2 separate regions of the Homo sapiens genome follow, and region 2 is linked to region 1. Evidence: fine-mapped expression QTL. A gene starts in region 1. The other region holds a variant in brackets. All regions are shown on one strand. Distances are from middle to middle.

Region 1 (15,109 bases):
AATGGTTTGCAAATTCCATTCTGGATGGATCACGACTCAGCACTATGGCTTCGGGATCCCCTAGAGATAAGCACAAGGTTGCAGCCAGGAAAAATGACCCCCATACCCACACAGATAGTTAAGGGCCAAACCACCTCTGTTGTTTTGGGTCCTATCATTCTCTCTGCTATCAGTAGGCCTTATTCTATAAGAACTTCTTCAATCCAGTATTGGCCTACAGAGACAGCTAAGTCTACATTTTATTTATTTATTTATTTATTTATTTATTTATTTATTTACTTATGACACAGGTTCTTGCTCTTTCCCCCAGGCTGGAGTGCAGTAGGTGTGATCTTGGCTCATTGCAGCCTTGAACTTCCAGGCCCTGCCTCAGCCTCCCAAGTGGCTGGGACTACAGGTGTGCGCCACAAAGCCTGGTTAATTTTTGCATTTTTTTGCAGAAACGGGGTTTTGCCACATTGCCCAGGTTGGTCTCTCACTCCTGGGCTCTAGTGATCCTTCTGCCTTGGCCTCCCAAAGTATTGAGATTACAGGTGTGAGCCACCCTACCCGGCCTGAATTTTTTATTGATGCTGGTGTCCCCTCTCATCAGTACACTCTGATGTCCTCAGAATGGTTGTCCTCTGCGCCTCCCTATGGAACATTACCATCAGGTGGGTTTTCTGGACTTTTTGCAGTGTGTCTACTCCAGAAGGTTACTGCCCTTCCCCTTGTGACACCTTCCTCTACTGTCCACCAGGACAATGATGGCATTTCTACCCCATTTACTACGGGCTTTATTTTTTATTTTTATTTATTTATTTATTTATTTTTTGAGACAACAGTCTCACTCTGTTGTCCAGGCTGTAGTGCAGTGGCACGATCTCAGCTCACTGCAACCTCCGCCTCCCAGGTTCAAGCAGTCTTTCTGCCTCAGTCCACCAGTAGCTGGGATTACAGGCATTTGCCACCATGCCCGGCTTGTTTTTGTATTTTTTTTTTTTAGTAGAGACAGGGTTTCACCACGTTGGCCAGGCTGGTCTCAAACTCCTGACTTCAGGTGATCCACCTGCCTCAGCCTCCCAAAGTGCTGGGATTACAGATGTGAGCCACTGCACCCAGCAGGCCTTTATTTTTTTCATGCTTCTAAGAGTGAGTTCATAGAATCTCTGGGAGCCTTTGCTAGGATGTTAAATTGTGTATTATGGGATAGAATGCTCCCAAGTCAACACAGTCTCCCTCATCCAATCTCATGTTCTGGCCACCTTGATCAAGCACCCTCAGCATTCAGTCCCACATGTCCTTCCCAGCTTCTTGCTGGTGTATGCTGGTTAGGTCTTGCAGCTACTTTGGGGTATAATCCCTTTTCTCCTTTATTAGGCCCATCATGTCCCTGAGTTATACTGTGACTTAACCCTAGTTTACATTTCATGGCCAGGAGGGGAGGTGGGTTCCTTGTTGACTGTGGGAAAAAGCCTTGGCATTTTCGAGTAGGAGCCAGGGAAGGGCACTTCTGCAGGCTCAGAGCATTCAAGAGAATCTGGAAATCCAAGATTTTCAGGGGCATCAACTCAGATGTCCCTGTTTCACATGTCAGGGTCCCATCCTTTCCCAACAAGGGCTCTGACCTTGATATAGCAGGCCTACCTTGCTTGGAAGCTGCATTCGTCCTTTCTCATGCTGCTAATAAAGACATACCAAAGATTGGGTAATTTATAAAGGAAAAAGGTTTAATTGACTCACAGTTCAGCATGTCTGGGGAAGTGTTAGGAAACTTACAATCATGGCAGAAGAGAAAGCAAACCATCCTTTCTCACATGGTGACAGGAAGAGCAAAGCGGGGTAAGCCCCTTACAAAACCACCAGATCTCATGAGAACTCACTATCACGAGAACACCATGGAGGTAACTGCCCCCATGATTCAATTACCTCCCACCAGGTCCCTCCCACGACATGTGGGGATTATGCGAACTCCAACTCAAGATGAGATTTGGGTGGGGACACAGCCAAACCATATCAGAAGCTTAACCTTCTTTGGAGCATGATTATTCAGTTGAACCTAAGTTCAGTAGTCACCCAGTTATGCTGTCTTCAGCTACTATTTTCCATATGTTTCTCAAACATCTGATATATCACACTGGCTAGTGCACTTTCTTCCACCAGCATACCATCTCAATTTACCACTTTAACAATTGGACTGCCACTTTGTGTCAGGGACTATCTGTGCTCCAACTACTACAAGTGATAAGGTCCTCACTGACAGCCAGGGAGCAAGTGATCCAGCTCTAAAACTCACCTTATCATCTGCTTTCCTAGACCACTCCTAACAACCAACTATTCTGGGTTGAGTTCTCCAAGAGGCAGAGAGTTCAGGATACAGAATGTTGTTTTGTTTTTGTTGTTGTTGCTGTTGTTGTTTGTGTGTGTGTTTGGGCTTTTTTGAGACGGAGTCTCACTCTGTTGCCCAGGTAGAAGTGCAGTGGCATGATCTCAGCTCCCTGCAACCTCCACCTCCTGGGTTTAAGTGATTCCCCTGCCTCCACCTCCTGAGTAGCTGGGACTACAAGTGTGCGCCACCACACCCAGCTAATTTTTGTGTTTTTAGTAGAAATGGGGTTTTACCATGTTGGCTAGGCTGCTCCCAAACTCCTGACCTCCAGTGATCCACCTACCTCTGCCTCCCAAAGTGCTGGGATTACAGGCGTGAGCCACCACACCCAGCCCAGAATGTTTATTAGAATGCACAATTAATACCAGAGGCAGTGGGGAAGGAAGGACTGAGCAGAGGAGGAAGTTGAGTTGTGATTCAACCCAACAACTGCCTGGCTGGCATGGGGAGCTCTGGAGTTAAATAGGGCCATCAGACTTTCCCAGTGTGGGGCCAACATGACTGGGTCTTTATACCCCCACCTCTGTCAGTCACTCAACGTGGTCTCCCTGCAACAAGGTGACTCTTGCAGCCGAGACAATCCCTGAAGGGACAGAGGGCTGAAGCCTGTCTGCCAACAGCACTCCCAGTGGCTGGAACAAGTCCTTCCCTATAGGGGAATCTGGGCGGCACACCTCCATCTCCATGTCCATCACATACGATATCACAGACATTTAAATATTTTGATAACTGTACATAAGAGTTTCCTTTATAATCTTATAGATCTTATTTTATGCATTTGAAAATATTCTTCTGAGACAGGGCTTTTATCATATTGCCATAGGGTGCCACGATATAAAAAAGGTTAAATACTCTCTGATTCAGAAGTATCCAATGATGACTTCTCTCTCATGCATTTAATTGAAAATCTGGTTTTTCTCCTTCTCTGCTAGTTCTCTACCTCTCTCCCCACCTCCCACATCATAGCCTATTCACATATGTCTGAATCTCATGATAGACAAGTTCAGGTTCTTTTCCCAGGTTCTTTTTACCACATCCCCCCACCCCCACATAAAAAGTATATATGGCACAGCCTAGGTTCCACCCAAATCCTTTCTCCTCTTCTTCCTGGGCCCACAACTCTCCTACATACATTGGTATACCTTGCGCTTAGGGATGGCCATGTGACTAAGTTCTAACAGTGGAACATGATCAGATGCCACTTCCAGCCTCTAAGACAGCCAGTGTGTTTCCTCCATAAGCTCCTTCTCTTCCTCCCAACTGGAGACTCTAAATGATGACCCTGCCTCAAGCAAGCAAACAACAAGTCCCTCAGGGGTGGTGTAGGCTGCAAATGGAAGGAGCTTGAGTCCCAAACCTTCCACGGAGAAGGCTGGCTACCAACCTGGATCACTCACCCAAGACTGCTCGAAGAGTTGGTTTGAACCATTGTGTTTTGGGGTCTATTTATTACAACAGTTTAGCTTGCTTTGTGAATAGATTTAGTGGCAGAGCCTCCAAATTCTATAGATACATTGATCTCAGTCCTAACCGCATCTGGAACACCATTAAATAAAGGAATTGCAAACCCAGAGAAGGTAATGAATTTGTCTAAGGTCATACAAGATGGCTAGGATCAGGACCCAACTCTCCAGTTTTCTTTCTTCTCTGCTATTCTGCCTTCTGTGATCCTACATAAGTGGGCATGATTGTATAACATATGCGGCCATGAGATTTCTCTTTCAGCAAGAGAAAGGGACAGGAAGAAAGAGAGGGAATGCATTTTCTTGGCCTGAATTAGTGTGAGCCATTAGTTACCTACATTGACTAAATTATCTGGAATGAACATTCAACTCTACATCACATATAGTTAAAATGACAGATCTGCTTAAGATTGTTTCTAGCATACGTTATTTCAATTTAGGCAAATGTGACCATTCAGTGTGAGGGGACCATACTGTCATTAGGTCCCTGTCAGTTCTCAATTATACTGTTATCTTAGAGGGGGAAAAATGTGAAATTTGAATGTAGACGAGTGTTGATTTGACTGCTACAGTTTATTTTACGTATAGAAATAAAATAATGTGTAGCAAAAGCATTATTACAAAGATGATAATGAAATAACTAGTATTTATAATAGTATAATAGTATAGTATTTATAATAGTATGATAGTTTAATGACTATTTGTCAGATGTTGTGTAAGAAACTTTATACACACACACACACACACCTCATTTAATTCCTGTATCAATCAGGATACAGGACGCTGTGGTAACAACTCCTCAAATCTCGGTGGCTTGCACAACAAATGCTTATTTCTTTTTTTTTTTTGACACCAAGTCTTGCTCTGTAACAGGCTGGAGTGCAATGGTGCAATCTCGGCTCACTGCAGCCTCTGCCTCCTGGGTTCAAGCGATTCTCCTGCCTCAGTCTCTCGAGTAGCTGGGAACACAGGCACGCGCCACCACATCTGGCTAATTTTTGTGATTTTAGTAGAGATGGGATTTCACCATGTTGCTCAGGCTGGCCTTGAACTCCTGACCTCAAGCGATCCACCCACCTCAGCCTCCCAAAGTGCTGGGATTACAGGCATGAGCCACTGCGCCCAGCCCCAAATGTTTATTTCTTGCTCATGTGACATGTACTTCCTCGAGTTTTTCCTTCCTGAGATCTAAGCTGAAGGAACAGCTCTCTGGAGCCACGCCATTCTGGTGGCGGAAAGGAAGAGTAAAAGTGGTAGAACCTTGCAATGCTCTTGAAGCGCCTATTTGGAATGTCTACATCATGTAAATGGTAATGGACAAGTATGTATAATCCCCACACCAAAAAAAGGGGACACTATTGGGGACAATAACCACATTTCAATGCTGCAAGACGGATATTGACTGCACCCCCTTCCCACTTTCAGAAAGAAGAAGAGTAATTTTGCTGAACTCCTTCTAGAGACTGGAAATGTCCCTTCCAGTTGGGGTGATTAGGGAAGGCTTTGGTAAAATTTGAGCTAGAGTTTGAAGGTTAGGTAGACTACTGGTGGGTGAAGAAAGAACAAGGACCTTTGTAGGCAAAGGAAAACCTCAGAATTACAGAGGTGGAAAAAGAGTTCTAGTCAAGCCACTTCAGCTGGCTACAGAGTAGGTGGGAAAGAAAATGGGAGGACAAGGGCTCAGATGATGGGGGGTTGGGGCATTGGGGGGACACTTGAAAGCTAAACTAAGGGGTTGAACTTAATTTAGGAGGCAGTTAGAAGCTTTTACATATTTTTGAGCAAGAGAGTGACATAATTAAAATGATCTGGGCCAGGTGTGGTGGCTCACACCTGTAATCCCAGCACTTTGGGAGGCTGAGGAGCTTGGGTCACCTGAGGTCAGGAGATCGAGACCAGCCTGGCCAACATGGTGAAATCCCGTCCTACTAAAAATACAAAAATTAGCCGGGAGTGGTGGCATATGCCTGTAATCCCAGTAGCTGGGAGGCTGAGACAGGAAAATCGCTTGAACCCGGGAAACAGGTTGCAGTGAGCCGAGATCGTGCCACTGCACTCCAGCCTGGGCAACAGAGCGAGACTCCATCTCAAAAAAACAAAACAAACACACACAAAAAACCAAAAATAAATAAATAAAATGATCACTTCTGAATACTGATCTAACTAGGGGTTGCAGGGTGGGCTGATATAGGGAGAAACTGGAGAGCAAGGAGATCACTAAGGTCCCTACATGTCCAGAACCAAGATAGAGGTCTTGAACTAGGATGGTGGCAGTTAGAACAACAACAACAAAAAGTCAATTCCAGGCTGAGTGCAGTGGCTCATGCCTGTAATCCCAACGCTTTGGGAGGCTGAGGTGGGAGTTAGAAAGCAGCCTGGGCAACACTGCAAGACCTCCTCTCTAAAAAAAAAAAAAAAAAAAAGTTAGCCAGGTGTGGTGGTGCCCACCTGTAGTCCCAGCAACTCAGAAGGCTGAGGTGGGAAGATTGCTTGAGCCCCAGGAGTTCAAGCTTGCCGTGAGCTACGATTGTGCCACTGCACTCCAGCCTGAGCAAGACCTTGTCTCCAAAAAAAGGTCAATTCCACTGACTTTTCTAAGGTGTACACCATCAAGGGGCAGCTCCATCTCCAGGCCATTGGCTCATGAGACATTCTGTAGTCAGAAGGCTAGGGCAGATTGCTTTGAGCAAGCCCCCATGGTGGTTCTCACTCCTACTTCTTTGGGTATATGCCCCTCTGTTTAAAAATAAAGTTAATATGCATTTAAAAAAAAAAAGGAGAAAAAGGTCAGTTCCAGAAACTGTGTGAATAAAGCATTTTACTTGCTTTTTCTATTAATCTATAACATATGTTGATTTTTTAAAAAGAATATAAGAGCTATGCAAATTGGAGCTTCAAGACAACTTCCCATCTCCCTAGGAGGAGATGGCTGCCCTAAACCCCCCTACATAGAAATCATCCCACTGCTTGGGCTTAAACTTGATGTTGGGGAAATGAAAAATCCAAGCTAAGGCCGAAGCCTGGGGCCTGGGCGACCAGCAGAATGAGGACCACTGGTCAGTTTCAGGCTGAGGTGCGTCTTCCAGGGGACAATCTCTAGCTGGCCCTTAAACATTCAGACTTCAAGCTCTATTTACAGCATAAAGGTGTTTCAAAAGACGTGATACAAATAACTGCAAATGCTCTGCGATGTGTTAAGCACTGTTTGAAATTCGTCTAATTTAAGATTTTTTTTTCTGACGTAACGGTTAGATTCACGTTTCTTTTTTTTTAAGTACAGTTCTACTGTATTGTAACTGAGTTAGCTTGCTTTAAGCCGATTTGTTAAGGAAAGGATTCACCTTGGTCAGTAACAAAAAAGGTGGGAAAAAAGCAAGGAGAAAGGAAGCAGCCTGGGGGAAAGAGACCTTAGCCAGGGGGGCGGTTTCGGGACTACGAAGGGTCGGGGCGGACGGACTCGAGGGCCGGCCACGTGGAAGGCCGCTCAGGACTTCTGTAGGAGAGGACACCGCCCCAGGCTGACTGAAAGTAAAGGGCAGCGGACCCAGCGGCGGAGCCACTGGCCTTGCCCCGACCCCGCATGGCCCGAAGGAGGACACCCACCCCCGCAACGACACAAAGACTCCAACTACAGGAGGTGGAGAAAGCGCGTGCGCCACGGAACGCGCGTGCGCGCTGCGGTCAGCGCCGCGGCCTGAGGCGTAGCGGGAGGGGGACCGCGAAAGGGCAGCGCCGAGAGGAACGAGCCGGGAGACGCCGGACGGCCGAGCGGCAGGGCGCTCGCGCGCGCCCACTAGTGGCCGGAGGAGAAGGCTCCCGCGGAGGCCGCGCTGCCCGCCCCCTCCCCTGGGGAGGCTCGCGTTCCCGCTGCTCGCGCCTGCGCCGCCCGCCGGCCTCAGGAACGCGCCCTCTTCGCCGGCGCGCGCCCTCGCAGTCACCGCCACCCACCAGCTCCGGCACCAACAGCAGCGCCGCTGCCACCGCCCACCTTCTGCCGCCGCCACCACAGCCACCTTCTCCTCCTCCGCTGTCCTCTCCCGTCCTCGCCTCTGTCGACTATCAGGTAAGCGCCGCGGCTCCGAAATCTGCCTCGCCGTCCGCCTCTGTGCACCCCTGCGCCGCCGCCCCTCGCCCTCCCTCTCCGCAGACTGGGGCTTCGTGCGCCGGGCATCGGTCGGGGCCACCGCAGGGCCCCTCCCTGCCTCCCCTGCTCGGGGGCTGGGGCCAGGGCGGCCTGGAAAGGGACCTGAGCAAGGGATGCACGCACGCGTGAGTGCGCGCGTGTGTGTGTGCTGGAGGGTCTTCACCACCAGATTCGCGCAGACCCCAGGTGGAGGCTGTGCCGGCAGGGTGGGGCGCGGCGGCGGTGACTTGGGGGAGGGGGCTGCCCTTCACTCTCGACTGCAGCCTTTTGCCGCAATGGGCGTGTGTGTGTGTGTGTGTGTGTGTGTGTGTGTGTGTGTGTGTGGAGGGGTCCGATAACGACCCCCGAAACCGAATCTGAAATCCGCTGTCCCTGCCGCTGTTCGCCATCAGCTCTAAGAAAGACGTGGATCGGGTTCTAGAAAAGATGACTCCCTGCACGCCCCTCCCTGCACCTCCCGAGCAGTGATTCCGACAGGGCCTTCACTGCCCCTGATTTTAGGCGGGGGCCGGCCCCCTCCCCTTTTCCTCCTTCAGAAACCCGTAGGGGACATTTGGGGGCTGGGAGAAATCGAGGAGATGGGGAGGGGTCCACGCGCTGTCACTTTAGTTGCCCTTCCCCCTGCGCACGCCTGGCACAGAGACGCGAGCAGCGCCGTGCCTGAGAACAGTGCGCGGATCCCACTGTGCACGCTCGCAAAGGCAGGGTTCACCTGGCCTGGCGATGTGGACGGACTCGGCGGCCGCTGGTCCCCGTTCGCGGGCACGCACAGCCGCAGCCACGCACGGATGGGCGCGGGGCTGCAGGTGCATCTCGGGGCGGATTTCTTTCTCAGCGCTCGGAGCGCAGGGCGCCCGGCGTGTGCGCTCCCTGCCGGAGGCGCGGGGCTGGCGCGCAGGGCTCGCCCCTCACTGCGGCAGTGGGTGTGGACCCTGGTGGGCGAGGAAGGGGGAGGATAGGCTGTGCCTCCTCCCACTCCCGCCCCCAGCCCCCCTTTTTTTCCCCCTCGGAACGCGAGGTGCCATCTTTTTTCGGCGTGTCACGTCTTTACGGTGCCATGCCAAACCGGGTGGCCGGGCTTCATAGGACAGGGCGGGGCCTGGCATTAAAGGGAGGGGGACAATCAGCGCTGAAATCTTGGCGTTTTGCTGCTGCGGGCGTGAGCACTGGGGGCGTTCGCCCAGCACCTTCTTCGGGGGCTCTTTGCTTTGTCTGTAGAGGTTACGTGATCTGCGCTCCCAGCCCTGGTTTCTGGCTTTTATTCTGAGGGTGTTCAGTCAACCTCCCCCCTACGCCCATGCGCCTCTCTTTCCTTTTTCGCTCCTCATTTCCGAGCCCATTGTTGGATCTCGAGGCTTGCTGGGTTCGATGAACTCGAGTCAACCCCCCGACCCCCGGCACGCATGGAACGGGCGTGACCGCGCGCAGCCTCGTCTCGGAGTCTGCCGGCGCCGGGAAGCTTCTGAAGGGATGGGATTCGAGTCTCCGTGCGCGCTGCGGGCGGCGGCAGAGGGATCTCGCCCCTCCCTACACCCCAAGTGTCCTGAGGGCCACGCCACACCAGGTTGCCCAGCGAGGGACGCTGGCTACCCATCCGGGGATGGGTGGGGAGCCCTGGCGGGGCCTCTCCGGCTTTACGCCCTGTTGCTTCGCCTGGCCGGAGAATGTGAGGAAGGGGCATAAGGTTACTGGTGCTTCGGCCACACCCATCTTTCTGAGCCCACTGGACTGGGCGCAGAGGGGGGATTGCCATGGAAACCACAGGTGTCCGGAGAGGGGATCTTGGGGCTGGCCTCACCCCTTCCCTGCGGAGATTGGGGACCCTGGGGTAGGGGGAGCCGCGCCCAGTCGGCCTCCTGGAGGACACGGGAGGAAGCCCCGAACCCCCGCGCCTGAGGCTGTTTCTGATTGGCCCCTGGAGGCCGCAGACACGCAGATAGGCGGCCCTGGGTGTATTTTTATTAATATTATGTCCGTACTGATTAATATTATTTATCTTAAATAAATTTCACCCGTGTCCAAGTTCACCGCGCCCCCAAAACCGAGTCTGGGGCGGCAGGGGGAACTCCTGGCCAACGAATCCATGCCTCGCCCTCCTGTGATGAACCTGGTACGCACGGTTTTCTGGTTAATTCTATCGCTGAAAACTGGTGCGGGGGGCGCACTTCTGAGACGGAAGAGCATCTAGGAGCTGAATCCTCCACGCGGGTCGCCCAGGTTGATCTGAATTTCTGGGGAATGGCTTGGCTGCCCGCCCGGGACCAGGCCGACCCTCCTTGACGGTGGCGTAGAGGGCTGGAGCCTGGGTACTGCGAGGCTCCTCGCATGGCTGGGCCCGCCGCGAGGGGTTGCAGAGCGGCTCAGGGATCGATTCAAGCATCGTCTCTCCTCCCTCGCCCCCAGACAGAGCTGGGCGCGGGGTTCCCCTTCCAGATGGAGCGAGGGTCTCGGGGTGGCCCCGGAAAAGGGGAGCCCGCGGCCACGGCTACGTATTGCCATCTCGCGAGCAGAGATGTCACCTCCTGCCTTTGGAGGAAAGGGAGCCCGGTGGGGATGAGCGCATTTAGCCCAATGCTGGGAACAAAGCGCACTCCGCGCTTCTGCGATTTCGCTCCATTTTGAAATGTGTTGGCGCTTTGGTGGGGCCGCTGCGGTGGGCAAGGCCGGGGGCGCTGTTAATGGAGGAACCTCAGGGGGACGGTCCTTCGTAGGAAACTCTATCCTGGCTCTGCGCGCGCTTTAAGGAAATGGCTTCCCTCCAGGACCTCGAGGGATGCAGCTTTTGCGCGGATGACGGTGGGGTGCTGAACCAGCCGGTGCGCCTCTGGAAATGTCTGGGCACGGATCCTGGGGCCATCGACGACTCCTCCCCATTCCCAGCAGGCGGGAGCTCTTACATTCCGAGCGAGTGACCCCTCTCACCCTCTGGCGCTCACACACCTGTAACTCCAAACCTCCGTCTCAGAATGGTCCAGGCTGGAAGGGATGATGGGGGCTCCGACAGCGACTGCCTAGCTCACCCCTCTGCGTGCTCAGGCTCCAGGCTCAGCAGGACCAATTTGAGTTCTATCTGATCCCCCTCGGCCCCTTAACTGACCCATCCTACAGGAGACAGGGAAATGTCTTTCCTACCGCGGTTGATTCTGGGGTGTCATTTTGTGTTTTGTGATGGCTGCTTATATTTACTGTATAAGCATTGTATTTACTGTATAAGCATTGTATTATAATTACTGTATAAGCTGCTTATATTTACTGTATAAGCATCTCCAAATCCTCCCTCTACGTAAACAAATTAATGGATAAACAGATAAGTGTATCCCCTGCCCCCACCCCTGCTACGCAGGTCCGGAGTGACTCTTGAAGCTCATACATTCCTTGGCCAAGTTTGCTTCTCTAACAGATGTTTATATAGCAATAACCTGGCTTGGCTCTTGGGTTCACCTTTGGACGATTTGGGGAAGGGGCTTGTTGGCTTTGCTGGGTTTTGGATGAGTGACAGTCCATGACTGTTCCTGCTGGAAGGGCGTGACTTTTAAGTGGTTTCTAATATCAGGCATTGCTCCTCCGACAGGAACAAAAGAAATGGATACTGCCCATAAATTGTTAGAAAACTTAGAATCGCTTTGATTGAGGAAAGGTTAGATTTATTCCGGTTGGAAAAAGTGGCCTTTCTATTAAACGTGCCCTTTGACCCTCATGCCCTTGGAGGTCGGTGCCAGCCTGGAGATGGGATAAGATTGTGGTTTTCCTTCTGCCTTTTTAACATCTGTTGTTACAGTCCATTTGTTGAAAATTTAAAGAAACTGTTTTATTCCACTTTCCCTCAGCATTTATGTGTGTGGTTTCAGTAGCTCTGTGGCTATATGTACGAACACGTGTTATTTTTCCAATTGGACATGTGATAATTTTCCAACTGGACCTTGCCTTCTATTGATGTATTTATTTAGCATCTTCCTTACTCCCTCCTTGAAAAAGAATCACTCAAAAACAAATAAAAACAGCCGTAGGGGCCTAATACAGTGCTAGACATACAAGAGGTATTCGGTCCATACCAAATGGATTTTATCCATGAAGGATAAATGGGGAAATACAGTGGGAAGCAGGTGGGAAACTGCGTTTGACTCTGCTCTTTCCTCCACCACCACTTTCCTCATCACCGTGTTCAGAGACCCCCAAAGCCCCCTCACACTCCCAGAAACACCCCCCTGGCCACTCCTAACTTGCCATGCCCAGGAGTTAGGTGCTTCCACTAGTGACATGGAGCTGGCGTTTGGGGGGCACCTCAGCAGGTGACGGGAAGAGAAGACCCCAGCCTCACCAGCTGGGCTGCAGCAGGGAGAGGAGTCCTCATGTTCCAGCAGGGACTCTCAGCTGTTTTCCTGTAAAACCATGGTTCTCAACTGGGGGCCACTGAGATGTCTAGAGAGATGTTTTTGTTTTCACAACTCGGGGAGGGTGCTACTGACATCTTGTGGGTAGAGGCCAGGAATGCTGTTAAACATCCTACAAGGAAGGCACAGGACAGTCTCCTACATCAAAATATGACCCAGTCCCAATGTCACCACTGCTGGGGTTGACACTGGCACTGCTATCTTAATTACATTCATTGAGTGTCTTTTAGGAGGCCCTATTCTAAGTGCTTGCTAAGATTATCTCATTTAATCCTCACAACACTTCCGCTATGTAGCAGGTGCTGTTATTATCTCCGTGATGGGGAAACTGAAGCACAGAGAGGGTTAGTAACTTGCTAAAGGTCACAGAGCCAGTGGGTGGTGGAGCTGGTTGCCTGACACTAGTTCCCTCCCCTCTCAGCCACATGTGGGTTTACTTGGCCATTGTGGACTAGTCTGGGAACCCAGATATGATCTATAACATTGACCCAGTAGAATATTGATTCCAAAACCACTGTCTCACAAATGAATTTTTACAAGAGTCTGTAATCGGAGCATGACCCAGAATAAGGTTAGGGAGATGTGGAGTTAAAGCTCTCAATTTCTTATCTGGCCCCGACACAGAGAGCAAGGCATTTCACTCTACATTGGTGCTCTGTTTATAAAACAAAGAGCAAATATCTCTTCCTAAGGTCCTTAAACCTCTTCCCCCAATCCAGGGTTTCTGGACTGCTCTGCCATATGACGGGGCAGCTGGTTTGATTGACCCAGGGAAGGCTGGAAATCAAGACTGGGGGATCAAGACGTAGATTCAGTGTGGCCAAGGTCAAGTCTCTGAGGTTTAGGGACATCAGATCCCCAGCTTAGGTTCTGTACCTCGGCAAGGTGAAAGCGTTGGCGCCCACTGATGAGGCCTGCTCTGAGATTGTGGGTGTGGGTTGAGTTGGGTGGGCATAGGCAAGTCCTCTTGTAAGAATCTTTTGGCAAAGATGGGCCTGGGAGGCTTTTCTCACTTCCTGGGGCCCAGGCTTTGCAATAAGTATTCCATTATACTGTGGTACCTTGGGGCTACCTGAGAATCCTCTGTCTCGCCCCTGTTGCCTTGCCAAAGAGTTTGCTGTCCAAGAATTCCTTTCCTGTCTCCAGGTGCCATGCTCCTGCCACCTCTGCCAGGTTCCCTGCCTGCCCAGATGGCTCCCAACTGAGTGTGAGGAGGAATTTGAGACAGGTTTTGAGCTTTCTGGGTTCTCCAGTTAGGAAACTTTCTGTAAGCATGCAGATAGAATGGGCTTCAGCAAAATACAAACTCGAACAACTTCCATGTATAGTCCCTTAATTTTCTTTGCTTTTTTCATATTTCATCAGGCTCCATGCTGAGCCCAATCAGGGACCCGATAGAAATCCAAACACCATGTCAGCGAGTCCCCAAGAAATGCATTTTGTGCCAAGGCTATTCAAGGAAGGTTTGGGAGCAGCTCAAGGGCAGACACTGTTACCCTCCCCCAGGTCCCCAGTGCAGGGCAGTGTTCTGCATGTGGAGGCAGTTTGGCCTAATGGTTAAGGAGGTAGGCTCTGATCGGGCCTCCTGGGCACAAATCCCAGCTCCCTGCTCACTGTGAGACCTAAGCCATATTGTTTAGCTGCTTGGAGAGTTTTTTGTCATCCACAACTTGGAGTATGATGGTACCTGTCTCACGGGTTGCCATGGGGTTCACACAAGCTAACCCGGTACTCACTAGGGCCAAGCACATAGTAACTGCTCAGTAAATGGCATCATCGGCGGTGTCCTGTGGATGAGTGCTTGTGATTGGCTGAATGACCAGAGGGGTCTAAAGATCCTGGTGATGGAATCAGTTGTACAGATAAATTGTTACACTGAGTAGGGATCAAGATAGGAAAAGTCGGCAACTACCCAGCTCCCCTGCACCAAACTGGGCAGAAGTGGATCCTCTGAAAATTGCACACACCCATGTTTAAATGTACACACAGAACTCTTGCCACAGGCAAGCGGAGATTTGTCATCTGCTGTCCCTGCCTCATCTTCTTCCTGAAATCCACTCCATGCCAGGAATAAACTGCATGCTCTCCACCAGCCCAAACTGACCTGCCTTCCCGCCAGCCATCCCGGGCAGGGTGACCTGGCTTAGTACATCGGGTTCAGAGATCTTTCCAGTTTACTCGTTGAATAAAAAGTGAGGGCTGATCGAGAAAGTAATGGCAGTCAGGGAAGGCGAAGGAGGTAAAGAAGAGATTTTACAAATGAAGTAATTCAACAGAGTGCTGACATTGGTAAACTGGCAAACAGATTTCAGGGTGGTTGGTTGAGAGTAGAGTAGAAAAGGATTAAATAAAGCAAACTTGTGGTGTACTGAATCTTAGGAATTCCATGTATCCAATAAGTATAGTCATTTATGAATTAATAAATTCGGCCTAAGAAGCCTTCTTATCGCTTAAATCAAGACTAAGTAACAATATATCAGTTTTAAAAAGTCATTATATCAGAAAATCATTTAAATGATACACATAGATTTCCAAGATTTTACTTTAACCGAAACTATATAAATGTGAATTTGTTCACCCATCTTTTGACACAGGGCTCAGGTCTTCTCTTGGTGTCTGGATCAGCCAGTTGAAATTTCTTGTCTGTTTTGCCTATGCCACATTAATAATGCACTGTCTGGGTCCTCCGATTTCAGTTTGGATTTTGGGTTTACATTGTGGAGTCATCTGAATGCAGAATCCT
Region 2 (15,109 bases), 41 kb before region 1:
GGTACTCAAAGTGCCCCGGCTAAGAGTCTCCGCCTTGACCCTGTGCAGCCAGCCCTTCTCCATCCTTGGCTTCGGTGACATTGTGGTCCCCGGCTTCCTGGTTGCTTACTGTTGCCGCTTTGATGTGCAAGTCTGCTCCCGTCAGATCTACTTCGTGGCCTGCACCGTGGCCTATGCTGTGGGCCTGCTGGTCACATTCATGGCCATGGTCCTCATGCAGATGGGCCAACCTGCCTTGCTCTACCTAGTGTCCAGCACCCTGCTCACCAGCCTGGCTGTGGCTGCCTGCCGCCAAGAGCTCAGCCTCTTCTGGACTGGCCAGGGCAGAGCTAAGATGTGTGGGCTCGGCTGTGCCCCTTCAGCTGGCTCTAGGCAGAAGCAGGAGGGCGCAGCAGATGCCCACACAGCCAGCACACTTGAGAGAGGCACCAGCCGAGGAGCAGGGGACTTAGACAGCAACCCTGGAGAAGACACCACTGAGATTGTCACCATATCTGAGAATGAAGCCACCAATCCAGAGGACCGCAGTGATAGCTCCGAGGGCTGGAGTGACGCCCACTTGGATCCTAATGAGCTGCCCTTCATCCCCCCTGGGGCCTCGGAGGAGCTGATGCCACTGATGCCAATGGCCATGCTGATCCCACTCATGCCCCTGATGCCCCCGCCCTCAGAGCTGGGCCATGTCCATGCCCAGGCCCAGGCCCACGAGACTGGCCTGCCCTGGGCGGGACTCCACAAGAGGAAGGGTTTGAAAGTAAGAAAGAGCATGTCGACCCAGGCTCCCTTGTGAACTGGAGGCACTGGGACACACGCCTCTCAAAGGGCTGGTGGAACATTGCAGAGCAAAGCCATGCATGGCAACAAGAAATCAGGGTATCAAAGAGATTTCATATCTACCCAAGGAGTCTCTCTGTTTGTCGGGAGTGCAAGAGAGCAGCAACCACATAATAAGAGTGTGCAGGGCTCGAAGGGTCCTTAGGAGTGGGCACCACCCCCAAATAATGAAGGGGGGAAACTGAGGCTCCAAGAGGGCCTATGACTTGCACAAGTTCAAGCGGCAAGGTCGGGATTTGCATCCAGGGCTCACTGGGCAGCTACTCCCCTCTGCCTGCTTGCCCAACCCCTTCCCAATCCAGAGTGGCAGCTTCTTAGCCTGGCACACAGCCCCCATCCCATCCCTGCCACCCACCCTAGGCTCATTGCCCATCTTCTCTCCATGCTCAGGTCAAACAGAACTCCTTGTCCTCCCCACCCGCTCTCTCTGCATATGCTGTTCCCTCCAGCTGGGATGCCCTTCCCTCTCCAGACAGAAACACTCCAGCCTGGCTCCCTGACTCACTAGAAGATTCCGAAGCATCCTTTACTCCTCAGCTCACATCCATTCTGCAAAACGTCTCTGTTCAAGAATCCCAGGCAGCAGCACCAAGCCCAGCAAGTTCCTGTATGCACCACCCATTCCATCTTCAGGCATTGAGTATGCCCCTACTATGTGCATCGCCATGTGGTGGGCACAGGGAAGGCCTCTGTCTAGCTGGGGGAGGGGGAGGGGTGGGCAGACAAGAAACAAACTTAGAATTGTCTCAAAGAGGTCGGGAGGGGTTGGAGAGGTTGGGCCCAGGGTGGAAGAATTCCGGAGACCAAGGCCTCCCTCACTGACTCTAAGTAATGTTCAAGCCTCGTTGGGTCTCTGTAGTCTCATCTGCAAAATGAGACTTATAATACCATTTCCATCTGGAGGCAGGGGCATGGACGAGATGACCTCCTAAGGACTCTACAGGCTTTTAGGCCATGTAGGGTGCTGATGTGTTGCTTAATCAGAGCAGACAAACTCTGGGGTGAGAAGGCTTCCTGGAGGAGGTGTTTTTGGAGGGGAGGAAAGTGTATCCCAAGAGGCGGTGTGGTTCAGTGGTTAGGGTTCTACAGCCAGGCTGCCTACCACAAATCCCAGCCCTACCACTGACTTGGAGTATCTCACTGAGCAAATGACTTATCCATTCAGTGCCTCTGTTTTCTTGTGTGTGAAATGGGATAATAGGACCTACCATCTGGTTCTTAGGAAGTTTGAACGAGTTGGCCTATGTCAGGTGATTGGCACAATGCCCTGCCTGTCCGAAGAGCCCCCTGCACGTGAGCTATGTTTATATTGCTCCCCTAGTGAAAGCCTCACAGACTCAAACCCAGCTCCTACAAGACCTTGAGGTCCCAGCCCAACGGCCCTCTTCCACCCCTCCAAACCCCTACCGCCACAAGCACACGCCAGACCCACCACACCCCCCATGCTTTTTCCTCTTCTTGGAACTCTCTTTCTGCCCCTTCCTTACCACGCCCCGTGAACTTGGCCTGGCTGGCTGCTCCTCTTCGCAGCCTTTCCTAAAGCATCCCTGTCTCAATCACACGACCAGGCACCTTTAGTTTTCCGATCTTCCCCGGTAGAGGGCCAGCTTTGGAAGGGCAGGGGCCTTGCCCATCTTGTTCATCTGTGTAATTTCAGGGCTCAGAACAGCCCCTGGAGTGTTACAGGTGCTTGATGTATTTGCTGGAGGAATGAACGGATGGATGAATGAATGAATGAATGAATGAGGAGTTGACCAGCCTGAACTGCAGAGGAGGGAATGCTATGAGGGAAGGCCCCACTGCCCAGGCCACCTCACAGGCTTCCTGCAGGACCTTGGTCAGTGTTGACGTGAGACTTGGCAGGCCTGGCTGGGCCCTGGAGTGGGGAGAGAGTCCCAGGGAGGCAGTGCAGGTGGTGGGCCTCTCAAAGCCCCGCTTGCCAGGGAAGAAGTGCAGCCTCTCGGTACACAGCAGCTGAAGGCCCGCTAGACAAGGGAAGCTTGGAGAACCCGGCCAGGCCACTGCGGAGGTGTTGGCAGCCCCTCCCACCGGAGCAGTGGCCATCTGGCCTGGACAGAGGGCCCTCCGCAGGCCCTGGCTCAGCCCCAGCCTGGGCAGCCTCCCTGCTGCTGGCCTGCGTCACGGGGCCTGCCGAGGGCAGCTGCACCCTCTGCCAGGCCCGATGGGAAGGGCTGGACAGAGCCGAGGCCTCCTGGGCTCCCTGGCCCCCACATCCCCCAAAGCAGGAGGTCAGGATAAAGGAACTTCTCTTTCCCAGAAATCCAGTCTGAGGGCTCTGAGGATGCAGGCCTGGAGCTCCGCAGGCCTGCAGGGAGGCCAATGCCTACCTCCAAGGAGAGGGGATTCAGGGAGGGTCTGGGTCAGGAGGCCTCCCCCTTCCCGGCATCCAGACCTGATGGGGAGGTGAGGGCCCACACGGCCTGGATCTGCTGCCTCCATCCCTCTTCCCCAACCCCCAGCTTGCTGCACTGTGCTTGGGCAGCAGAACTGAGGTGCTCACAGGGTCCCAAGGCCAGGCCTGGGGTGGACAGCAGCCCAGGGTGCAGTGGCATCACAGTGCCCAGGTAGCTCTCAGCTCTGCTTCTCACTGGGAATTCGTCCTAGTCACCTAAGTTTCACCACCCCCTCCCCCTGCTGGTTCCCTAGTGTGGCCACAGCCAGGACTGACCAATGTCGGGGACCTCTATGAAGGACACCCCAGCTCCAGAGCTCCCGAGGGCTCACTGGGGCCCCAGCCAACCGGCCCCGAGGCCCAGCTTCATCCTCACCTTCCTGCAGACCTCACTCCCTCGCAAGCATCTCCCCTGAGACCACTGCCCAGCACCTCCCACCCAGCATGCTCCTGAGGTTCATTCCCAGGGAGCCCAAGCTAAGACACAGGGACAGCTGCCTTCTACGTGTGAACTGGAAAAACTATGTGAGTCCCCCCACACACCCCTACATCCTCCAAGCTCTTCTGCCCTGCTCAGGAAACAAGTGTGGAGACGGGGCTGGAGGCAGGTGATGGGCAGGACCTTTCTTCTTCCTCCCAAGAATACTCTGCAGCAACTCTGCCCATTTCACAGATGGGGCTGGGCAAGGACTCTGGGTCTAGAGGCAGCTTGAGGGTTTAGAAAGAGGCACCCAAGCACGGCTGCAGGTCAGAATCATTGGGGCACCTGCCAAAAATCTGGATTCCTGGCCCCACCGATTCTGAGTTGACAGGTCTGGGGTGGGACCAGGCATCAACCATTTTGAGGGACCCCCACCCCCACCCCAGGGTGAACACCTTTAGAGTTTGGCTTCAGCCTCTTGTCTTGGCTGGGCCAGGAGGAGATGGGGAGGAGGGAGACCAAGGCTTCAAGGTGCCGGGGGCCCAAGGCAGGTCCTGCCTTCCATCCTGACATACACATTCAGCTGGGGGCCCTGCAGGCTCCCCTCCCTGAGCCCTGGGTACACCTGACCACACCCGGAGGCTCAACCTCCACCTTGCTCCCCTGGCCAATCCCGGTCTGGGGCAGGAGAAATTGAAGCAACTTTACCAACCAACAATCTTCACTTAACCGCCACATTTCTCAACCCCCACCCCACTCTCTAGCATGTCCTCTGAGGCAGACTTTGTCCTGTTTTGTTCATCATGCACTGGACCTGGCACATAGTAGGTGCTCAATAAAACATCTGTTGAATGAATTCACTGGCTGGATGAATGTCCCCCTTACTAGCTGTGTGACTTTGAGGATGCAAAAGTCTCCTTACCATAAAGTGGGCGTAATAACACCTCCTGCCCCAGGGGTTGTGGTAAGTAATAAGCCATATGGGTGAGGAGCTGAGCCCAGTGCCCGGCACAGAGTCAAGTCTCCTAGATCTTGCCCTGCTGCCCCTGCTGTGCCCTCTGATGGCCCAATGTCCCTACTCCTGCCCAGAGGCCTCCTCTTACTCTGCCAGTCCTCTTCCCAGAGGACAGGGCCAACTCCAGGTGTCCAGACCACGCTGCCACCTGCCAGCGGTGCCCAAAGCTGGAAGCCCCTGCCTGAATGCCAGAGGGACACAAGATACTGCGCATGGGCATATACACACACGCATGCACACACATTTGCATACATACATATACACATGGGCACATACCCATGCTGCACACTTCACACACCCCCACACCCCACACCTGCACACATATACACCCATGCGCACATCCACACACATATACCTGTACTGAACACATGCACATGCCCCGTGCACACCTGTTCACACCCAACACGTGCACACACACACACACACCTCTGGGCTCTGACCTGCTGCGTGTGGTTCCCTACAGATCCAGCCTTTCCCCACCAGGCCTTTCCTGGGCTTACAGGAGTGGGGGTGCTGATCCCTGGATTTCCCATCCCAAAGGACAGGGTGGTCAAGGTCCCTCCCTGCAGGCCTACCCCTTTCCTGGTGGAACAGATCCCCCTTCAAGACAGAACTCGCTGCCCAGCTGCTCTGAGGAGTGTGGTTCGAGGACAGCCTCCTGGGGGCACCTCAGCTTTCTAGCCCGGCTCACTCGTGCTCTTCAGGGGAGGGGGCACAAAGGGCCGGTTACTGGCTGAGCAAGACAGGGGCCCAGGCCCTGGCTGTCTCCACCCAGAGTGGTCTTTGCTTTGATCCCATGGGCTGGCAGAGGCAGCACAGGGCTGCATCCCAGGCTGCCGGCTCCCCGTGCTGCAAGCTGCTTCCTCCTGGCTCCACCACTAACCACCACAGCACCTGCTTCCTGGACAGCCTCACCTGTGATAGGTGAACCCTCAGATGAGACCAGGGCAGGAATAGCCTCCTCAAGGCCACCCCCAGGGCCCCAGGTGGCCCAGCCTCAGGGTCGAGCTGTTTTACACAGGCCAACTGGCATTTCTGTCTGTGACCTTGGTAATCCCAGCACCAGCTTTATGAGCATGGGCTTGGTTTTCTTTTGTTCATGAGAGGGTTTAGTACTGGAGCTTCTGGATTTCTGGGACAGTGGGGACCAGCAAGGACCTGTGAGATGATCTCATCCACAGATGAGGAAAGGAAAGCCCAGAGAGGGCCAGGACCTGCCCAAGGTCACACAGCAATGGGACAGCAGAAACGAAATGCAAGTCTGGTCTCCTGCCTCCCAGCCCAGCAGCTGGGACCAGCTCTCATCCTCAACAGCCCCTCCCTCCACACACCCTGGTCTCTGATTTTGTTCCTCTGAAATCACACCTCCCCCAGGAAAACTCTGGGTCTACCCACTCCTGTGCCCTGGGAGGTATAGCCCCACATTCTCCTTGAGAAGTATCTGTGTGTGTTGCTTGATAAAGGTTCAGCATCAATCCGCTTGCCAGCTAGAAGGAGAACACAGCTGGACTTTGAGACCTGGGTTCAAAGCCCCACATTGCTTTCTCTTGTCATGTGATGCTGGACAACAGAAGCCAGCCCTCTGAGCTTCAATTTTCTCATCTGTAAAATGGGCTGCTAAGACTCACCTAATGGTTCGTTGTAAGGATTAAATGAAGTGAAGTATGTGTATGAACAGCTAACACTGGCTAAGCACTTACAGCAGGGCAGATAAATGCATTATCTCATTACGTGTGACCCAGGTTTGGGGAAAAACTTTCCAGGACAGCACCTGACATACCCCCAAATGCCGTCTTCCCCAAATGAGCTCCCGGAAGTGGAGTCATCCTCTTCCCTTGGTCTCCCCTGCCCACGCTCACTGGGATGTGGTGTGTGGGTGGGTGCCTGGTGGTAAGCAGGGCACCACCGCAGAGCCAAGAAAAGGTTTCCCAAATTCCCCCACGTACTGGGTCCTGCAGTTTAACTGAACCACCAACGTT[T/C]TGCGCCTTTTTTCCTGCAACCCTGAACCTTGAATGCTCCTGTGCTGCCACCTACTGGCCAGGAAGATAAGAGCAAGCAGGGGCTCATGGAATTTGGGGATAATTATAATCAGTAATGATATTTAAAATATGTTTAATAAACTAGCAATCAGCAGAGTTCTGAAGCCCCTATTGGGCTCAAGGTTAACGCTTTAGAATCTGGGTTGTTAGAAGGGTGAGGTGCCCTGGAGGAGGTTATTTTGATATTTTATTGAATGAAATAGCCCAAAACAGCATCACTGAATGTCCTTAATGCCTAAAGACGGTCCATGCCCTGACACTTACCCCACCCCATAGAATCAGACCACCATGAATAAGTGTCCTCAGGCCCCCCGGTTCCTGGACTATTTGTACGCAAGATGAGGAGACTCCCCATATGGCCCCTCCCCACCCCCACCCCCAGGTCCAGACCCAGTCCTTGCCCCTGGAACGGGACCTGGAAGGGAAGCAGACAGCTGGGGCTGCTGCTGAGAGAACCTTGGGCTGCTAAAATCTGAGACGTTCTGAGTTTTTGTTTTTGTTTTGGTTTGGCTTGGTTTGGTTTGTTTTTTGAGACAGGATCTTGCTCTGTCACCAAGGCTGGTGTGCAGTGGCATGATCACAGCCCACTGCAGCCTCAACCTTCCAGGCTCAGGTGATCCTCCCACCTCAGCCTCCCCAGTAGCTGGAACTACAGGCATGCGCCACCATGCCCTGCTAATCTTTGTGTATTTTTTGTAGAGATCGGGTTTTGCCATGTTGCCCAGACTGGTCTCCTAGGCTCAAACAATCCTCCCGCCTTGGCCTCCCAAAGTGTTGGGATTACAGGTGTGAGCCACTGAGCCTGACCTGAGACCTTGTTCTGAGAAATGCCTTTAAGTAGTATTCCCCAGGCTCCCAAAGACTTGAATGGCAGCAAAGATTGGTGGGGTTTGGGGGATTGCAGTGAGGTCTGAATAATGGTGTTGGCAGAGCCTCCAGTGATCATCCAGAACTGAGGACAGAGAGGGAAAGCAGCCTGCCCAAGGTCAGACAGCAGACCCAGTGACAAGCCCAAGGCAACCGAGAACCTGGAAACTAATGCAGAAACCCTTCGTAAACAGGAGACGCTTTCTGGTTTGCCTTTCAGAGGCTGCTTCATGAAGCCCCCAAATTCCCCCACATACTGGGTCTTCTTAAAGCAGGAGGCCCCTGGGTCCAGAGAGAAAAGAACTCTGAGCAAAACCCTCAGTCCCTCGTCCAGCCTGGACCCAGGCTTGGCCCTGCCTGCAGTTCCTGACTTGACCCAGACACTGTAGTGAACTCAGGCAGGAGGGGCCACACCTGAGAACCCTCACCCATCACAGCCCAGGTTCTCTTCCCGGCTATCCCCCGGGACAGCCCCAGAGCATGAGCCAAGGGAGTCTGGTCTCCACCTACCTTGCTTAATCCTTAAAGCCAGTTGTGACACATTGAATAATGTCCTCCCCCAAAAATTTGGAACCTGTGATCATTACCTTCCATGAAAGGGAGCAAAGGAGAAAGGACTTTGCGGAAGTGACTAAGCGAAGGATCCTGAGATGGGGAGATAATCCTCTATCGTCCTAGCGGGCCCTAAACGCAAGCACATGGGCCCTTATGAGAGAGAGAGGGAGAGAGAGAGAGACAGAGACAGAGGAGAAGCTGGGCGCAGTGGCTCACGCCTGTAATCCCAGCACTTTGGAGCCCAAGGCAGGTGGATCAATTGAGGTCAGGAGTTTGAGACCAGACTGGCCAACACAGCGAAACCCTGTCTCTATTAAAAACACAAAAATTAGCCAGGCATGGTGGCACATGTCTGTAATCCCAGCTACTTGGGAGGCTGAGGCAGGAGAGAAAGCTTGAATCCCAGAGGCGGAGGTTGCAGTGAGGGGAGATTGCACCACCGCACTCCGGCCTTGGTGACGGAGTGAGACTCCATCTCAATAAAAAAAAAAAAGAGAGAGAGAGGACTGGGTGCAGTGGCTTATGCTTGTAATCCCAGCACTTTGGAAAGCCGAGGCAAGTGGATCACCTGAGGTCAGGAGTTCGAGACCAGCTTGGACAACATGGTGTAACCCTGTCTCTACTAAAAATACAAAAATTAACCGAGCATGGTGGTGGGTGCCTGTAATCCCAGCTGCTTGGGAGGCTGAGGTAGGAGAACTGCTTGAACCCGGGAGGTGGAGGTTGCAGCGAGCCGAGATTGCGCCACTGCACTCCAGCCTGGGCAACAGAGCGAAGCTCTGTCTCAAAAAAAAAAAAAAAAAGAGCTAGAGAGAGAGACAGAGGAGACAGCAGGATTACACACATGGAAGTGGAGAAGGCAATGTGGTGATGGAGACAGATTGGAGTGATGTGGCCACAAGCCAAGGACTGCCAGCAGCCAGCACGAGCTGGAAGGGGTAAGGAATGAATTCCCCCTAGAGCTTCCAGAGGGAACACAGCCCTGACCCCTTGATTTCAGCCCAATGATCCTGATTCCAGACTTCTGGCCCCCAGAGCCGTGAGAGGGTATATTTCTGTCGTTTGAAGCCATCAGGCGTGTGATCATCTATACAGCAGCCACAGACGCGAATCCAGGGTTCAACAGACATCTGTGGCACAGGCTGCCCTTGCGCCCAGAGCTGTGCCTGAGAAGTAAATGGCTCACAGAGCAGACAAGATGAAGACATAACCCAACCACAAAAGCCCCCTGGCCCGCCGGGTATACTTTCCTGCAGGGGAAAGGTGGGCACAGGGGAGTCAGGGAAAGAGAGGCGAGAACTGGAGTCTTGGCTGCAACAGCCAGTGAGTGCATTCTCAGTTCAAGCCACTGCACTGGGCTCCAGGGACTTCTTTCCACTGTTATTGATTGCACTCTAGAGGAAAATTGGAAAGCACAGGAAAGTAGAAAAAAAAATCCACATTACTATAAGCTTTTGTTTTATTTCCATCCAGTCATTTGTTTTCCCCACGCATAAGGGTTTGGTTTTGTTTTTATTTTTTTAATTGTGGTAAAATACACATAACAAAATTTATCAAAGTGTACAGCTCAGCAATATTATTGAATACACTTACAATGTTGTGCAACTAGCACCACCATCCATTTCTAGAACTCTTCATCTTGTCAAACGAAATTCCATACCCACAAACAATAACTCTCATGCCTTCCTCCCCAGCCTCTGGCAACCACCATTCTACTTCCTGTCTCTATGATTTTGACTACCCTAAGTGCCTCATATAAGTGGAATCACACAGAATTTGTCTTTTTGTGACTGACTCATTTCATTTAGCATAATGGCCTTAAGGCTCATCCATGTGGCAGCATACTGCAGGATTCCTTTCCTTTTTAAGGATGAGTAACATTCACTGTGTGTATGCACCACATTTTGCCTAGCCATTCATTCCTCTGTTGGTGGAAACTTGGGTTACTATAAACATTGGTGTGCAAATATTAGATAGTGCAAAATTTATTGTGGTTTTTGCCATTACTTTCAATATCTCTGAGGCCCTGTTTTTAGTTCTTTGGGTTATATACCCAGAAGTGCAATTTCTGAATCACATGGTAATTCTATGTTCAATTTTTTGTTTATGTATGTATGTATGTATTTATTTATGTATGTATGTATGTATGTATGTATTTATTGGGAATGGGGTCTTGCTGCATTGCTCAGGGTGGTCTCGAACTCCTGGGCTCAAGCAATCCTCCCTCAACCTCCCAAGTAGCGGGGATTACAGGCATGAGCCCCTGGCTTTATGGTGTTTGTTTGTTTGTTTGTTTGAGACAGGGTCTTGCTCAGTAATCCAGGCTGGAGTGCAGTGGCACGATCACTGCTCACTGTAGCCTTGACTTCCTGGGCTCAAGCAATCCTCCCACTTCAGTCCCCCAAGTAGCTGGAACTACAGGTGCACACCACTATGCATGGCTAATTTTTTTTTTTTTTTTTTTTAGTGGAGATGCGGTCTCACTATGTTGCTCAGGCTGGTTGTGAGCTCCTGAGCTCAATCGATCCTCCTGCCTCAGCCTCTCAAAGTGCTGGGATTACAGGTGTAAGCCACGGTGCCCAGCCTCTGTTTAATTTTTTAAGAGATTGCCATACTGTTTCCATAGAGACTATAGCATTTTACATTCCCACCAATAGTGCACATGTGTTCCAATTTCTCTACATCTTCATCAATACCTATTTTCTGGTTTTGGGTTTTTGTTGTTGTTGTTTGTTTGTTTGTTTGTTTTGAGACAGAGTTTCGCTCTTGTCGCCCAGGTTAGAGTACAGTGGCACGATCTCGGCTCATGCAACTTCCACCTCCTGGGTCCAAGCCATTCTCCTGCCTCAGCCTCCCAAGTAGTTGTGGTTACAGGTGTGCACCACCACGCCTGGCTAATTTTTGTGTTTTTAGTAGAGACAAGGTTTCACCATGTTGGCCAGGCTGGTCTCAAACTCCTGACCTCAGGTGATCCATCTCCCTCAGCCTCCAAAACTGCTGGGATTATAGGCATAAGCCACCATGTCCAGCCAATTTTCTGGGGTTTTTTTGTATTGTTTTTTTGTTTTTTTTTTTTAATAGCAGTCTTCTTAATAGATATGAGGTAATATCTCATTATAGTTTTGATTGGCATTTTTCTAATGCTCATTTTTCCATGTGCTTATTGGCCATTTGTCTTTTTAAATGGAGAAATGTATTTTCAAAACCTTTGTCCTTTTTTGAATCAGGTTGTTTGTCTTTTAGTTGTTGAGTTTTAGAAGTTCTCTATATATTCTAAATATTAATCCTTTATCAGATATATAATTTGCAAATATTTTCCTCCATACTGTGGGTTGCCTTTTTACTCTGTTGATAGTGTCTTAGGATTAACAAAATTTTTTTAACTTTTATGAAGTCTAGTTTTTCTTTTTTATGAAGTCTGTTGTCTGTGCCTTTGGTGTCATATCTAAGAAATCATTGCCAAATTCGATGTTGGTAAGCTTTTGCCTGATGTTTTCTTGTAAGAGTTCCATGCATAGGTTTATTATTTGTTCATTTCAGTCCCAAGATGTCATCTGTCACCCAGGCCATCTGAATCCTTGTTAAAGAAAAGGGCACAACTGTTCTTTGTCATGTCCATCCAGCTGCAGGACTTCTGATACCTCCCTACCATTTGTCAAACCAACCCCAACTCCTCAGCCTGGTGTTTAAGGCCATCTGCATCCAGCCTTCCCTCCTGACTGGCCTTCCCTCCACTGGCCCCTATACATCCTGTTCACATGGCTCTTCTCACACGCTCACCCTTGCTCCGTGCCTCTGCTCACCTGGAATGAGCTTCTTCCACCTTCCTCTAATTCCTATAAACAAGAATCCACTGAGACAGTCCACATTCCAGGGCCCCTGTGCTGGGCCCTGTCCAAGGTCCTGGAGATGAACATAAACAAGATGTGAGAGTGGCGGGAGAGGGTCATGGATGCATTCTCTTTAAGACTCTTTCGGCTTTGAAGAATAAGAAACTGCTCAAAGTAGCTTAAGCCAAAAGAGAAGCATATTTGAAGGGACACAGGAATTTCTCAGAACAGAAGGGCAAACAGCCCAGTCAGGGCTCATGGGAACTGGGAATTAGAAAGCTTTCTGCCTCGCCGAGCTTCATAATCTCTGGGCCTCCACTTCCTCTTCTCCCCTCCCTGGGCTGGCTGCCTCTGCTCACCCATTTTGCCCTTGTCTCGTCATGCCACTGGCCCCCAACTCCACGTCATTGCCTCTCAGCCCAGGGGTCACCAACAACAGGCAACGGTGTCTATGCAGCCACATTTCAGACTCTCTCGAGAGAATCTACCTGGCTTCCACACTCTCTAGGGACCCTATTTGTTTGGCATCCTGTCACTGACTGTGGGTGAGCCCATGGGTCCCTGACTCAGGTGCCCACCCCAGGTCCAATCAGCTGTGGCTGGAGAGGGAGGGTGAGGAAGGCAGGGGCCACTGGATCACAAGGTTGTTCTTCCTGGAGATTGCTTCTCCCGGATCAGAGTCTGAATTTTATCAGGATCCCTGGGTGAATCATGGGCAGATTAAAGTGTAAGAAGCAGGCCGGGTGCAGTGGCTCAGCCCTGTAATCCCAGCACTTTGGGCCAAGGCAGGAGGATCACTTGAGGTCAGGAGTTCGAGACCAGCCTGGATAACGTGGCAAAACCCTGTCTCTACTAAAAATACAAAAATTAGCCAGGAGTGGTGGTGCGTGCCTGTAATTCCAGCTACTCAAAAGGCTGAGGCAGGAGAATCACTTGAACCCAGGAGGCAGAGGTTGTAGTAAGCCGAGATTGTGCCACTGCACTCTACCCTGGGCGACTGAGACTCTGTCTCAAAAAATAAATAAATAAGTGAAAACAAAAATAATAAAGTGTAAGAAGTGCAGCTGTGGAGCTGCGGTTCTCCGAGAGTGGTCCCTGATCCAGCAGCCTCTGCATCACTGGGCAACTTGTTAGAAATGCAGATTATGGGCCGGGTGCGGCGGCGCATGCCTGTAACCCCAGCACTTCCGGAGGGCGAGGCGGGTGGATCACCTGAGGTCAGGAGTTCAAGACCAGCCTGGCCAACATGGTGAAACCCCGTCTCTACTAAAAATACAAAAAATCAGCCTGGCATGGTGGCGTGTGCCTGTAATCCCAGCTACTCGGGAGGCTGAGGCAGGAGAATCACTTGAACCTGGGCGGCAGAGGTTACAGTGAGCCAAGATCACACCACTGCATTCCAGCCTTGGCAACAGAGTGACACTCTGTCTCAAAAACAAAAGAAACAAACAAACAAAAAAATGCAGATTATGAAGCCCTATCTTAGACCTGCTGAATCTGAAACTCTGGGGGTGGGGCCCAGTCCTTTGTTTTCACAGCCCTCCAGGTGACTCAGATGGGCACCAAAGTTTGAGAACTATTGCCCTAAAGCAGGGATTGGCAAGCTTTTCCTCTAAAGGGCTAGATGGTAAATACTTTAGACTTGGTGGCCTCAACTCTGCTGTCATAGCACTTAAGCAGCCATAACAATAGATAATAAAGAATAGGCACATGTGGCAGGCAGGATTCTCAGGCAAGTCTGGGCCCTTTTTGATTTTTGCTGCCATGTCTTGGCTGACCTCAGTTTCTGGACTTCTGGTTTCTGCTTGACTTGTCATCAAATGACCTTTGTTCTCTCATGGATCTAACACTTGCTCTTCTTGTCTTTATTGGGAGCTCACCTCTCCAGTCTGCCCACAGCTCCCACATGGCTGCCTGGTGGCCAGCACAGCTCAGAAGCATGGGTGACGGGTAGGAAGTGTTGTAGGAACAACAGGTTTGTATGCCCACTGTGCGCTAACAGACCCAGTAACTGAGACAGCAGCGTTGACAGGGAGAAAGAGTTTAATGATCGCAGGGCACCAAGTGAGGAGATGGAGACCCTCAAATCCATCTCCCACAGTAGTTTTGGGTGAGGTCTCTAAGGGGATTGTGGAGGGTGAGCTAGTGAAGAACTGGGGCTGTTGACTGGTTGGATCCTTTCAAGAATCATGAGTTTCAGTGCCCTGGTTGGTTCCTACCTGCGCTCATGCCCCACGGTTGGTATAACAAATTTCCACAAACCAGGTGGCTTAAGACAACAGACATTTCTTTTCTCCCCATCTGGAGCACAGAAGTCTGAAGTTTAGGTGTGCCCAGCAGGGCTGTACTCCCCATAAAGGCTCTGGGAGGAGTCCTGTGTTTCCTCTCCCCACCTCTGGTGACTTTAGGCACTCCTTGGCTTGTGGCAACATCGCTCCAATTTCCACCTCCACTGATATGTGACCTCCTCCGCACCTTTGCGCATTTCAAATCTCCCCCTGCCTTTCTCTCATGGTGCACTTGTCACTGGATTTAGGGCCTGCCTGGAGATCCAGGATGATCTCATTTTGAAGCTCTTCACTAATTACATCTGCAAGACCCATTTTCCAAATAAGGTCACATCCACAGCTTCCTGTGGACATCTATTTGGTGGTTGAGGCACACTATTCAAACCCTTACACCACCCTCCCCATCAAACACACAGGACCAGACTAGGGACAATTGGTGTCTCCACTCCACCTCCATCCTAATCAGAACTACAAAGGACAAGGTTTCTGGTCATCCCCATACTACAGCCAGAGCCAGAAGAACATCTGAGAAATAAGGCATGGCCCCTCTTCTCCAGGAACCCATGGCTCAATGGAAGCAGAGCTGCCAAGAGGAGTGCCATATTTCTACCCCACTATGGCAGTGCCTACCCCTGCCCACTAGCTCCTTTCAGGTTCTGGAGCTATGCCCAGAGGATGAGATAACGCCCACGGGGAGCCGGAGCATCCTGGAGAGCATCCCATCCTGGATGGATGGGTCTTGCAGGGCGCCCAGTGATCCTGACACACACACAAACTCCCTTCTGCAGCTTCCGTTCTCCTAGTGCAGGAGATTTTACAGTTGCCAGGATGGCAATTAGGAAGGGAA

Which allele goes with the higher level. Alleles are on the strand shown, and positions count from the first base shown. SD is a standard deviation of normalised expression in the study named.
With allele C in place of T in region 2, the expression in testis of the gene that starts at base 8,721 in region 1 is higher (moderate effect, 0.47 SD a copy in GTEx).

Evidence for each region. PIP is the estimated chance that this variant, and not a neighbour inherited with it, causes the effect.
Region 2: its variant is fine-mapped to the expression of MAPT-AS1 in testis (GTEx, PIP above 0.99).

The regions. Positions count from the first base shown.
Region 1 is chr17:45,886,793-45,901,901 of GRCh38, forward strand. It overlaps MAPT-AS1 (MAPT antisense RNA 1), which reads right to left and starts at 8,721. Exons shown (of 2, transcript NR_024559.1): 1 at 8,688-8,721. It overlaps MAPT (microtubule associated protein tau), which reads left to right and starts at 7,762. Exons shown (of 13, transcript NM_001377265.1): 1 at 7,762-7,894. MAPT-IT1 (MAPT intronic transcript 1) reads left to right here and starts at 8,991. Exons shown (of 1, transcript NR_024560.1): 1 at 8,991-12,006. RefSeq lists enhancers at 7,705-8,590, 8,591-9,476, 10,363-11,247.
Region 2 is chr17:45,846,172-45,861,280 of GRCh38, forward strand. All of the region lies in intron 1 of MAPT-AS1 (MAPT antisense RNA 1), which reads right to left. It overlaps SPPL2C (signal peptide peptidase like 2C), which reads left to right. Exons shown (of 1, transcript NM_175882.3): 1 at 1-896. The coding sequence ends at 790. Among named protein-coding and RNA genes, the nearest start is that of SPPL2C, 8.8 kb to the left of the region's middle. RefSeq lists an enhancer at 1-600. The variant T/C (reference allele first, on the strand shown) is at 6,663.